Linked DNA regions of Homo sapiens. The protein of the gene in region 1 purifies or fractionates together with the protein of each later gene. This does not show direct contact. Each region holds a gene or a part of one and is shown in the gene's direction. Other genes may lie near its edges. The genes, in order: GPC6, TCEANC2 and LRRTM4.

Region 1 (3,736 bases):
CCAGTCTCATTGTATTAGTATTTTTCAATTCAGTGATTTTCCCATTCTTTTTTATCTTCTTTCACAATCTGTTACGCCTTCCACCCTGTTCCTGTATCAGCAAGGCCAAGCTACTTTCATTCTTGGTTTCCAGATCGGAAGGTTTAACTTATGATATTCTCATACTTTTATATTAATAATTTAATATAGTTTCCATTTTAGGACAAACTAGATAACTAGCATTTTTGAAAAAAGTATGAAATTCTCTTGATTTCCTAAAATGATAAGCAATATCAGCATACAGCATATATAAATATTTTGATAAATTTATGCTTCTCAATTTTGCAAATTTCGCCCTATCTGCTTCAATAGTCATTTTCTTTACCGAATCCCTAAAGATTCAGAGAGATTTAATAATATTCAACTTTATTTTACATTTAGTAAAAATAAAAACCATTTGGTGACCTGGACAAAATTACACAGTATTTGTAATCCCACAGTTTTTGCTGCCACTGTAGCAACAGAATGTCTATTTAAAAATATATATATATTTCATAGAAAGGAGGTAAACAAATGAAAAGTACTTTCATTGCTGCTTTGGTCTGATTTGAAAACAAATATAAAACATTTATCATTATTATAGACACCATTTAATTATCAAGACAATGGTTTGATTGTATATTAATCAGAACTGAAGTGGCTAAACCAAGCACTTCTTCAGCCAACTTCTAAGAATGCACAAGTAGCTTCCATGGAATTAATGGAGAGGTGTTCGTCACTATTTCCTTTCTGTATCTTAGCAGAGAATACCCAGAACCCCAGAAAGGAGAAGAGTCCTTTTAAAAAATTCCTGGAGCTTTTGAAATATGCAGGACTTGATTTGTCCCTGCATTTCTGAGAAGGGGCATAGTTTCAGGCAATAAACGGGGACTATGAAGAGGTAAAGCAGAATCATTTTACTCTTGGGAACTTAGATTGATAACCTCAGAAGCATTATCTTTCCTTAGCTCTTTCCCTACCCCAATTTATAATCTCTAAATGAGATAAAACTTGAACTTGCTCTACCCAAGCTTATTTGTGCAAAAGGATAGGTGCCCTACACACACAAAGTGTGTCTTGAGGGAGACTAGCATGAGGGCCAGTGAGGCTAATGATACCCAATGGCTTTAATTTTTGTCTTATTTTTTTGCATCCTATAAGGGATCCCAGTAACACTCAAGCGCTGTTGCAAAGTGGAAGATTTGAATTATTGGTGTGCACTTTTTCATTTAGAACCTCATAACCAGAAAGTCCAATTGTCAATATTTTATTCAAGTTCTATAACATGATGGTTTATATTTGTAATGATAATCCAAGATACTTTAAGGCTTTCTGACTCATTATGGCCACCTAAATTATGCTCATTATAGCTTTATTATGAAGTGAATTTAATTGCATTATGAATATCTGAACATTGCTAATTGATTGCTATATATAGAAACTAGAAAGAGTCTAAAATATGACATTAATTTGAACATCTCATTTATGGACTATTTCAAATAAAAGCAATTTAATGGAATTTAGTGTTAGGACAAATTTATAAATAAACTGAAGCAAATGTGTTTATCATTATGTAAACAACAATACTCTGCACGTTATATTTGCAATATATTTTGATTTGAGTTTGTATCAAACCATAGGATTATTTAAAATTTAACAAGAAATGATTAAAGAATTGAGCTATTTTGGAGGAGGATTACATGGTAGACTCCTAATGTTAATGGAAATCATGGGGTATTCTGTTTTGAGTTGTACAAGGTCATAGATGTAGGTCAAATCCCATTTAAAATATGTTTTTTATCTGTCCATTAACACCTTAATCACAGGATATGTTTTTCCATGAAAATGTCAATTAAAAGCAGTTGTACTTAAGGTAAGTGGGTGCCTTGGGCTTTCTAGATTTCATTAATTTATGACTTCTTTCTGTTTTATCTGCAGAATTTTTCCGAGAGCTCCTGGAGAATGCAGAAAAGTCACTAAATGATATGTTTGTACGGACCTATGGCATGCTGTACATGCAGAATTCAGAAGTCTTCCAGGACCTCTTCACAGAGCTGAAAAGGTACTACACTGGGGGTAATGTGAATCTGGAGGAAATGCTCAATGACTTTTGGGCTCGGCTCCTGGAACGGATGTTTCAGCTGATAAACCCTCAGTATCACTTCAGTGAAGACTACCTGGAATGTGTGAGCAAATACACTGACCAGCTCAAGCCATTTGGAGACGTGCCCCGGAAACTGAAGATTCAGGTTACCCGCGCCTTCATTGCTGCCAGGACCTTTGTCCAGGGGCTGACTGTGGGCAGAGAAGTTGCAAACCGAGTTTCCAAGGTAATTGAAAACGTGCTTTCTTTCTCATTGGTGTTCCTTGTTTATTCTGTTTTTAAAACCAATGTTTAAAAAAAAAAAAAAAAAAAAAAAAAACCAAGGTAAAAATTCTTAATTGGTGGTCCTTGCTCTTAATCAGTTAAATATCAAAGCATAATTCTGGCTTTCTTTTCCTTGCATTGTGTGAGAGAGAACAGGATTTTAAGCCATTCTATGTGGTTTGAAAATTAATGTTAATACTTATCAGCAGTATAGCAGAGAAGCTTTTAGTACCAATGGTGCAAAAGCAGGCACGTTGCAACTATGATCATTTGATATTTCTGATCAGGGTTTTAAGGATGATAAATACTCATGAAAGAATCCATTCAGAGGTTATAATCCTCTAGGGAGTCAAGATGACAGTCTTCATGGACCTGCGAATGGAGACAAGTTATTGTTCAGGACATCAGCACCTGGCATTTCTTCTTTTTCAACACATGTCAATGTGGCCAAATTCCTTCATGGTAAAAGAAGAGCCCTTTGCTGACACCTGTATTACTGGATTAGGAAGGACTAATGAGTACCAAGTATAGATTCTCCTAGAGAATTTCTTTTGTTACCCCTTATCTTTGTAATTTCATACCATGCATTGCCTTGGGCTTATGAATAAGATCAATCATTAATCTACTTTTGGGCCTTTCTTGAAGATAACATCTCTATACCTTGGATATAAGGGATAATTCTACATTCCACTACTTAAACATTGAATATTTCCTGTGTAGAGGATATCTGCTTTTGTTTAAGTTCTTTCTTGACATTTAAGGCACTTGTGAGGTCAGTCCTCCAAATAAAATGAAAGACAATTACTTAAAGAAGTAAAGTTAAAAATAATACGTAACAGGAATCTGGTATTATGTCACTCCAAGAAGGTGTATTTGTATAAGGATTATTCCCAAACACTACTTTTCTATTGGAGGGCTGTGCCAAAGAGCCACAGTATTTTTCATAACTATTGGTACTGTCCTACAATGCTTCTTTTTTTTTTTTTGACACTTTGGTCTCCTCAATATTTACATCCTAGCATAAAGATGGTGTGTACCCTTACAAATGTTTCTCTATTGCACTGTCAGTAAAATCCGTAATAGCCCATTTTAAATTGTTAATTTCCTAAACGTTTATTTGAGCATACAGAAAGATTATTTCTAGGAAGGCGCTGAAGGAAATAATTACAAGGGCTTATTTATCAATATAAAGGGCATATGATTCTAATGTTTAAAATAATATCTTTGCCGGGCGCGGTGGCTCACATCTGTAATCCCAGCACTTTGGGAGGTTGAGGCGGGCAGATCTCGAGGGCAGGAGATCGAGACCATCCTGGCTAACATGGTGAAACCCCATCTCTACTAAAAATA
Region 2 (3,500 bases), on another chromosome or scaffold:
TCCCAGTACTTTGGGAGGCCAAAGCGGGTGGACCACCTGAGGTCAGGAGTTCGAGACCAGCCTGGCCAACATGGCAAAACCCCGTCTCTACTAAAAATACAAAAATTAGCCAGGCATGGTGGCCACTGCACTCCGGCCTGGGTGACAGAGCAAAACTCCGTCTAAAAAAAAAAAAGTGTTTAAATGCTCTGGATCTAGGTCTGATATCCTGTACGATCTTATTTATCATTTTATTTTTAGCATCTACTACAGTGACCAAGAGCATAAAATCTTGCTTGCTGAATGAATAATCTCAGGGATAAGGAGAACTCCACCTAGAAAAGGAAAGTATCCAGGGGTGCTTTGTGCTTTGTGCATTGGAATGCACTTTCCTAAGCATCGCTAGCTAGGAAGCACCTTTAGACATTTCTAATGAGTGCTCTGCATTCCTCCTCCTCTTCCTCCTTGTGATGAGTGTTGATGTACTCCTTTCCCAGGTCCATAGAAAGGCTAGGTACAAATTCTTGATAAATAATTGGTTAGAGGGAGAAGTTAAAGACTCAATATTATTTTACCCTGTCTTCCCTTCAAAGTTTTATTTTTCAACTCCAGGATTCTCTTCATAGAACCTGTAAAGCAGGGACAATTGCTTGTTTAAGCCCTACATGACTAGTGCCCAGCATAGTATCTAGAGCAAACAGGCCTTCAATAAATGTGTGGAGAATAAAGGAATCAAACAATATTGGGCCATGCAGTTGGCATAATTGGAGAAATTTTCTAAATGTTTTGACCATTTTCTCAAATAAAAATTTTTTTTCTGTTTCCCTTTGTTCAATGATGCCTCTTTCATTATGTATTAAATTCTTATGTACTATGGTCTGTTTGCGACCTTCATTTTTTAAAATTCCCTATCCATTTTCTTTTTTGGTGTTGGTCCATATCATTTTCAATGTTGTTACTTTATAATATGTTCTAATATCTTAGATCTTAGATATGAGGCTAGTTGTGCCTCATAACTCCTCTTTTTCAAAATAGCATTTTATACTCTTGCTCAGTTATATTTGTGTAGAAGTATTTGGTTGTAATCTAATAAAAATAGCCTACTGAGATTTTTGGTTGAGATTACATAAAATCTATAAACTAATTTCTTTTTTGTTTCTTTTCTTAGGCAGGGTCTTGCTCTGTTGCCCAGGCTGGAGTGCAGTGGCATGATCACAGCTCACTATAGCCTTGAACTTTTAGGTTCAAGCCATCCTCCCATCTCAGCCTCCCAAGTAGCTGAGAGTACAGGCATATGTCACCTCACCTGGCTAATTTTTTAATTTTTTGTAGAGATAGAGACTCATTATGTTGCCCAGGCTGGTCTTGAACTCCTGGGCTCAAGTGATCCTCCCATCTTGGCATCGCAAAGTGTTGAGATTATAGGCATGAGCCACTGCACCCAGGCGACTACTTTCTATATTGGCATTTTTGTGCTCATTTTTCCATCTCATAATAAGGTATATTTTCCCTTTATTCCAATCTTCTGTTATGTATTTTAGTAGGAATGTATGTTATTCTTTATATGAGTCTCTCATTCAACCAACCTGCTCTCCTGATTCCCATCTCCTGCCACGATGCTCACTGCTGGAGATACAAAGATGAGCATCCCCTAAGGTTAGGGGATTTCTTGCATAGCTCTTTCTGCAAGAAGCTCAAGTTGGTGAACAAAAGAGATAACTGATCAAATAATTACAACTAACTCTAGTAATTACCATGATAAACAGAAGCGCAAGGTGCTAAGGAAGCAGAGAGCAGGGGTACTGACCAAGACTAGAGATATTAAGGAAGAATTCCTGGAGGAAGGGACCCTTAAATGAGTCTTAAAGGCCGAATGGAAGTTGGCCAGATAACAAGAGAAGTAAGAGTATTTCAGGCAGACAGAATGTTCATTGGGGTGTATGCTCAAAAGTAAAGAGATAAAAAATAAAATGTTTTAAGAGCTGCAAGTAGCTGGAGTATTGGATGACAGTGGATAGTAGCTGGAAATGAAGATAGAAAGTAGGTAGGAGGGTGGCAGATTGTGAAGGGACTTTTATGAAAAGGTAAGAGTGGATATAGCACCAAAGGATTTAAGTGGAGGAGTGAAATGGTCAAATTTATGCTTTAGGAAAAAAGTCCCTAAAAAACAAAACACTAAAAATAAATAAAGGCTATCCTAGCTGCAGTGTGGAAGATGGCATTAAGGGGTACCAAACTTAGCTGGAGAGGTCAATCAGGGTGCCTCCATAGTCAACTGGAGGCAACATGCCCTAAGGCAGGGCAGCGGGGCTAGGGATGGAGGAAAAGGAGGAATCCTGGAGCATTAAGGAAGTGGGCACAAACAGACAGCACAAGTGCTCACACACCCATTCTTGTCCATGCTTTCCAAAGTGCTTTATAGTTTTTACTAGTTTAAACAGGATTTGTTCCCCTGTGGTGTTCTGACTGGCTATTGCTGACTTAAGAAAGCTATTGGTTTTTAAAAATATATCTGTCTTATATTCAACCCATGGAGCAGGATTAAAAAGTTCATTAAAATAAAAAATTAAAAAATATATATGTATCTTATATTCTTCCATTTTTTAAACTTTTAGTTTTAAGTGTTCAGTTGACTTCTTTAGCCTTTCTAGGTATTTATTTTTATCTAAGTACTTTGCATATTGATATTTTTGACCCTTCACCTTTTTTCCATTTTTATTATGAAATTCTCAAACATACACAAAAATAAAGAGAATATTATAACTAACTCTCATATGCCCTTCATCTAGATTCAATAACTATTAAGATTTTGTCCCACTTCATCTTTCCCTTTTTGCTTTTGTGTTGTTGCTGAGGTATTTTAAAGTAGAATCTCAGACCTTTTGTCATTTCAACTCTACATACTTCAGTATGCATCTCTAAAAAATGTGGATATTTTCTCTTGTAATCACAGTGCCATTCTTATTGTGCTTAACAAAGTTTACAATTATTCCATGGTATAATTTAGTATCTAGTGCATATTCATATTCCTTGTTTATCTCAAAATATCTTTTAACAGTTGGTTTGTTCCAACTGGGATTTGAATCACACGTCGCATTTGGTAGTTTGTACTCAAGAGATTCTTTTAATCTACAGCAGTCCCTAACCCTAGCCCCTTTTCAAAAATAAAAACAAACAAAAAACAACAACAAAGAGAAAAATCACTGACTGTGGAAGAAACCATATCTGTTGTCCTGTAGAATGTCCCACATTCAGAATTTGTCTTGTTTCTTCATACTACAATTTAATTTATTCCTCTGTCTCTCCTATTTCCTATGAATTGGAAGTTAGCTTTGAATGACTAACTGGGTTATTGTTCTTTTTCTTTTGGGGAAGAGGATAAGACTACTTCATAGGTTAAGGGTGCGAAGTACTTCTTCTGTTTCTTCTGTCTGACAGTCCCACTCTTAGGGATGCTAACATTGAACAGTGGGTTTAGATGATGACAGCTCATCCCTCCATTATAAATTTCCCCATCAGAC
Region 3 (3,736 bases), on another chromosome or scaffold:
TCCGTAGACTGAAAGAATTAATTCTAAGCTCCAACAAAATTACTTATCTGCACAATAAAACATTTCACCCAGTTCCCAATCTCCGCAATCTGGACCTCTCCTACAATAAGCTTCAGACATTGCAATCTGAACAATTTAAAGGCCTTCGGAAACTCATCATTTTGCACTTGAGATCTAACTCACTAAAGACTGTGCCCATAAGAGTTTTTCAAGACTGTCGGAATCTTGATTTTTTGGATTTGGGTTACAATCGTCTTCGAAGCTTGTCCCGAAATGCATTTGCTGGCCTCTTGAAGTTAAAGGAGCTCCACCTGGAGCACAACCAGTTTTCCAAGATCAACTTTGCTCATTTTCCACGTCTCTTCAACCTCCGCTCAATTTACTTACAATGGAACAGGATTCGCTCCATTAGCCAAGGTTTGACATGGACTTGGAGTTCCTTACACAACTTGGATTTATCAGGGAATGACATCCAAGGAATTGAGCCGGGCACATTTAAATGCCTCCCCAATTTACAAAAATTGAATTTGGATTCCAACAAGCTCACCAATATCTCACAGGAAACTGTCAATGCGTGGATATCATTAATATCCATCACATTGTCTGGAAATATGTGGGAATGCAGTCGGAGCATTTGTCCTTTATTTTATTGGCTTAAGAATTTCAAAGGAAATAAGGAAAGCACCATGATATGTGCGGGACCTAAGCACATCCAGGGTGAAAAGGTTAGTGATGCAGTGGAAACATATAATATCTGTTCTGAAGTCCAGGTGGTCAACACAGAAAGATCACACCTGGTGCCCCAAACTCCCCAGAAACCTCTGATTATCCCTAGACCTACCATCTTCAAACCTGACGTCACCCAATCCACCTTTGAAACACCAAGCCCTTCCCCAGGGTTTCAGATTCCTGGCGCAGAGCAAGAGTATGAGCATGTTTCATTTCACAAAATTATTGCCGGGAGTGTGGCTCTCTTTCTCTCAGTGGCCATGATCCTCTTGGTGATCTATGTGTCTTGGAAACGCTACCCAGCCAGCATGAAACAACTCCAGCAACACTCTCTTATGAAGAGGCGGCGGAAAAAGGCCAGAGAGTCTGAAAGACAAATGAATTCCCCTTTACAGGAGTATTATGTGGACTACAAGCCTACAAACTCTGAGACCATGGATATATCGGTTAATGGATCTGGGCCCTGCACATATACCATCTCTGGCTCCAGGGAATGTGAGGTATGAACCATGATCCTCCTAAAAGCATTTCTACTGCGGGGAAGGAGAGGTAAATGTTTGAAGCCCTAGAGGTGTCTCTAATCACTAGAAAGATTAATGACCCTTTTGCTTTTGGGTTTTGCTCAGTGTGAAAGGTTACTTAATTAAATTACAACCACCAGGAAATTGACTGCTTTTTTTTTTTTTTTAAATGGTTGAAACTTGAAGGAAGTTCATTCAAGGATAAGTTGGAATAAAGCACTATGTTAAAACATCTGCTTTTTAACAATTTGTATACAGGGGTTGGACTTAAAAACACACATACAAACAAAACTCTTTTCATTCTGAAATTTCTGTCTGGTTCTTGGTGTTTGACTGTTGTAATGGAGTAAAGAAGAGGGCCAGCTTAATTTAAAAATAAAGTGAGTTTACCAAAATTCCAGAAGGTAATGAAGATTTAAACCAAAGAGCAATTTTCCCAAGGGTTGATTTTGTTGTAAATTTTTAGTTTTAATGAAAGCATGCAACAGGGATCTCACACCCATGTTACTTGCCATTTAGTTATTATACCAGCATAGAGAATGTCAGAGGCCTACTGTGTAATTGTATCAGGCTCCTAAGGCTTCTTTCTTTTTTTTTTTTTGTTTCCTTCTTTCCTACTTTCTTTCACTCCTTCCTTTCCTTCCTTTCTCTTCCTTCTTTTTTTGTTTGTTTGTTTGTTTTTTAATTACTGGGATATAGATCCGATTTCAAAGGTTTTTATGCACTGGCTATTTGTGTTTAATCAGAATGAAACTTCAATTCCATGCTTTGGCTTTGTCCCTGGTAACTAAAATCAGGTCACAATTTTGTGGATGATTTAGCAATAATAAAATGGCAGTCATAACAGGGACTGTTTGTCAGTATTGCTGTCATCCCCAAAAGAAATGATATGTATTCTTGTTAAACTTATTAAAAAATAAGTGATACAAATATTTATAAATAAAAGGAGAGAGGTTTGAGTTCTGGGTATCCTCCCTTTCTGTAACAGCCTCAAATAAAGGTGTACCTTCCATGTTATATTATTTTTGTTTTTATAAGAATAAATTTGGACCCGGTTTCTGATTATTTAATTTAAAAGATCACTTACAGGATCATGTTAGTGAGCAGACAAATAGTCACAAATTTCAAACTTGTCAATAAGTAATGCTGGATGTAAATTGTTCTTTTCTTGGTAATGTTGATCATTATGTGCAAAGACTGACTACTAAGGCCTTGTTGCTGGAAGAAACTAGTGAAGAGAGGTTAAATTCTGGCAATATAATGTTTTAGTATCTGATTTTAGATGATCACTCTTTCAAAAGACAGTTTTAATGAGTAATTAAAGATGTTGCCCTTTCTAATGCTAGTTAACAGTTGGAAAATATAATTGCTCTTTGATAGCATATACTCCAATTTTTCCATAGTCCTAACTACAAATGCTAATGAAAATGTTTTCAGACAAAGCACTGAATTTGAAATAATCTCTAACTCAGTACAATTTGGACTATTGAACTGTTCTTCAAAGAATTCATTTTCTTCTTTTTTGTGTATCATTGAAAATAAGAGAAGTAATCCCAGATAATAAATTCCTAAAAGGAAACTGTATAAGCAATTGCCCTTAAAAATTAAAAAGAATAAAAGATTTTCTATAAAAGTCTAACAAGGCTTGATGTTTTTATTGCAGGCCCACAATTATACAATATACTTGAGTATTAGTAACACAAGTTCATCCTATTTTATTCTGGGTTCTCCTTATATTTTGTGATCCTCTTAAAGGCTGGTATATAAAAAGAAAAGAAAATTCTAGACGCATTAATTCATTTTCTCTTGACTTTTGGAGTAGAATGCTAACTTTTATGTTTAAGAATCACCAAGAAGAAAGAAACATTCTTAAAGAACCAGGATTTGAGAACTGGGGTTCTAAGACTTTTCCAGAGATCTTAAATTTCACAGATTATTCCATCAAAAACCCTAGGCATTACCATGACAGAAACAAGTTTAAAAGATGGTTCATTTAATTAAAACGTGTGTTTAAATAAACACATTTTGATATTGTATGTGTTATATAGATTGACATTTAATGTCATGAAATTGCACTAGTATTGTTGAAAATGAATGTGTTGTTAAGGCATTAAGTAATGAAGAATGTAATTAAATATTGTAATAATTCTGTTGAGTCAAAATGGAATCCTTACTAAAGTAGCTCAAACTTTCTGTGCCCTCAAACATGGACATTAGTAGGCTATACATTTAAGATCATATGTCCATTTAGGATGAGGAGGGGGGTGCTATAAAACTATATTTAAATGAATTTCAACTTGTTTTAAAACGAAAGCATACAAAAACAAACATTGCAGGGGTCACCCCATTTTTTGACAGAATGTTTGCTGTATTACAGTTATAGGTAGATATAAATGGTGAGGAAAAGCAAACTCTTAGAAATTGTTATAGGGAAAACCCTAATTACTTCTTACTTCTTTGTCACTCGGAGTAAAATTTCTCCTGTT

The links.
Region 2: the proteins of GPC6 (region 1) and TCEANC2 purify together in Homo sapiens (co-immunoprecipitation; one large-scale study listed by IntAct). This does not show direct contact.
Region 3: the proteins of GPC6 (region 1) and LRRTM4 purify together in Homo sapiens (co-immunoprecipitation; one large-scale study listed by IntAct). This does not show direct contact.

The regions. Positions count from the first base shown.
Region 1 is NC_000013.11:93,828,198-93,831,933, forward strand, and holds part of GPC6 (glypican-6 precursor), read left to right. Parts: intron 1-1,956; coding exon 1,957-2,348; intron 2,349-2,618; exon of another isoform or gene 2,619-2,758; intron 2,759-3,736. UniProt on the Homo sapiens protein: Cell surface proteoglycan that bears heparan sulfate. Putative cell surface coreceptor for growth factors, extracellular matrix proteins, proteases and anti-proteases. Enhances migration and invasion of cancer cells through WNT5A signaling.
Region 2 is NC_000001.11:54,084,608-54,088,107, forward strand, and holds part of TCEANC2 (transcription elongation factor A N-terminal and central domain-containing protein 2), read left to right. Parts: intron 1-3,500.
Region 3 is NC_000002.12:77,515,811-77,519,546, reverse strand, and holds part of LRRTM4 (leucine-rich repeat transmembrane neuronal protein 4 isoform a precursor), read left to right. Parts: coding exon 1-1,229; coding exon of another isoform or gene 1,230-1,235; exon of another isoform or gene 1,236-2,889; intron 2,890-3,736. UniProt on the Homo sapiens protein: May play a role in the development and maintenance of the vertebrate nervous system. Exhibits strong synaptogenic activity, restricted to excitatory presynaptic differentiation.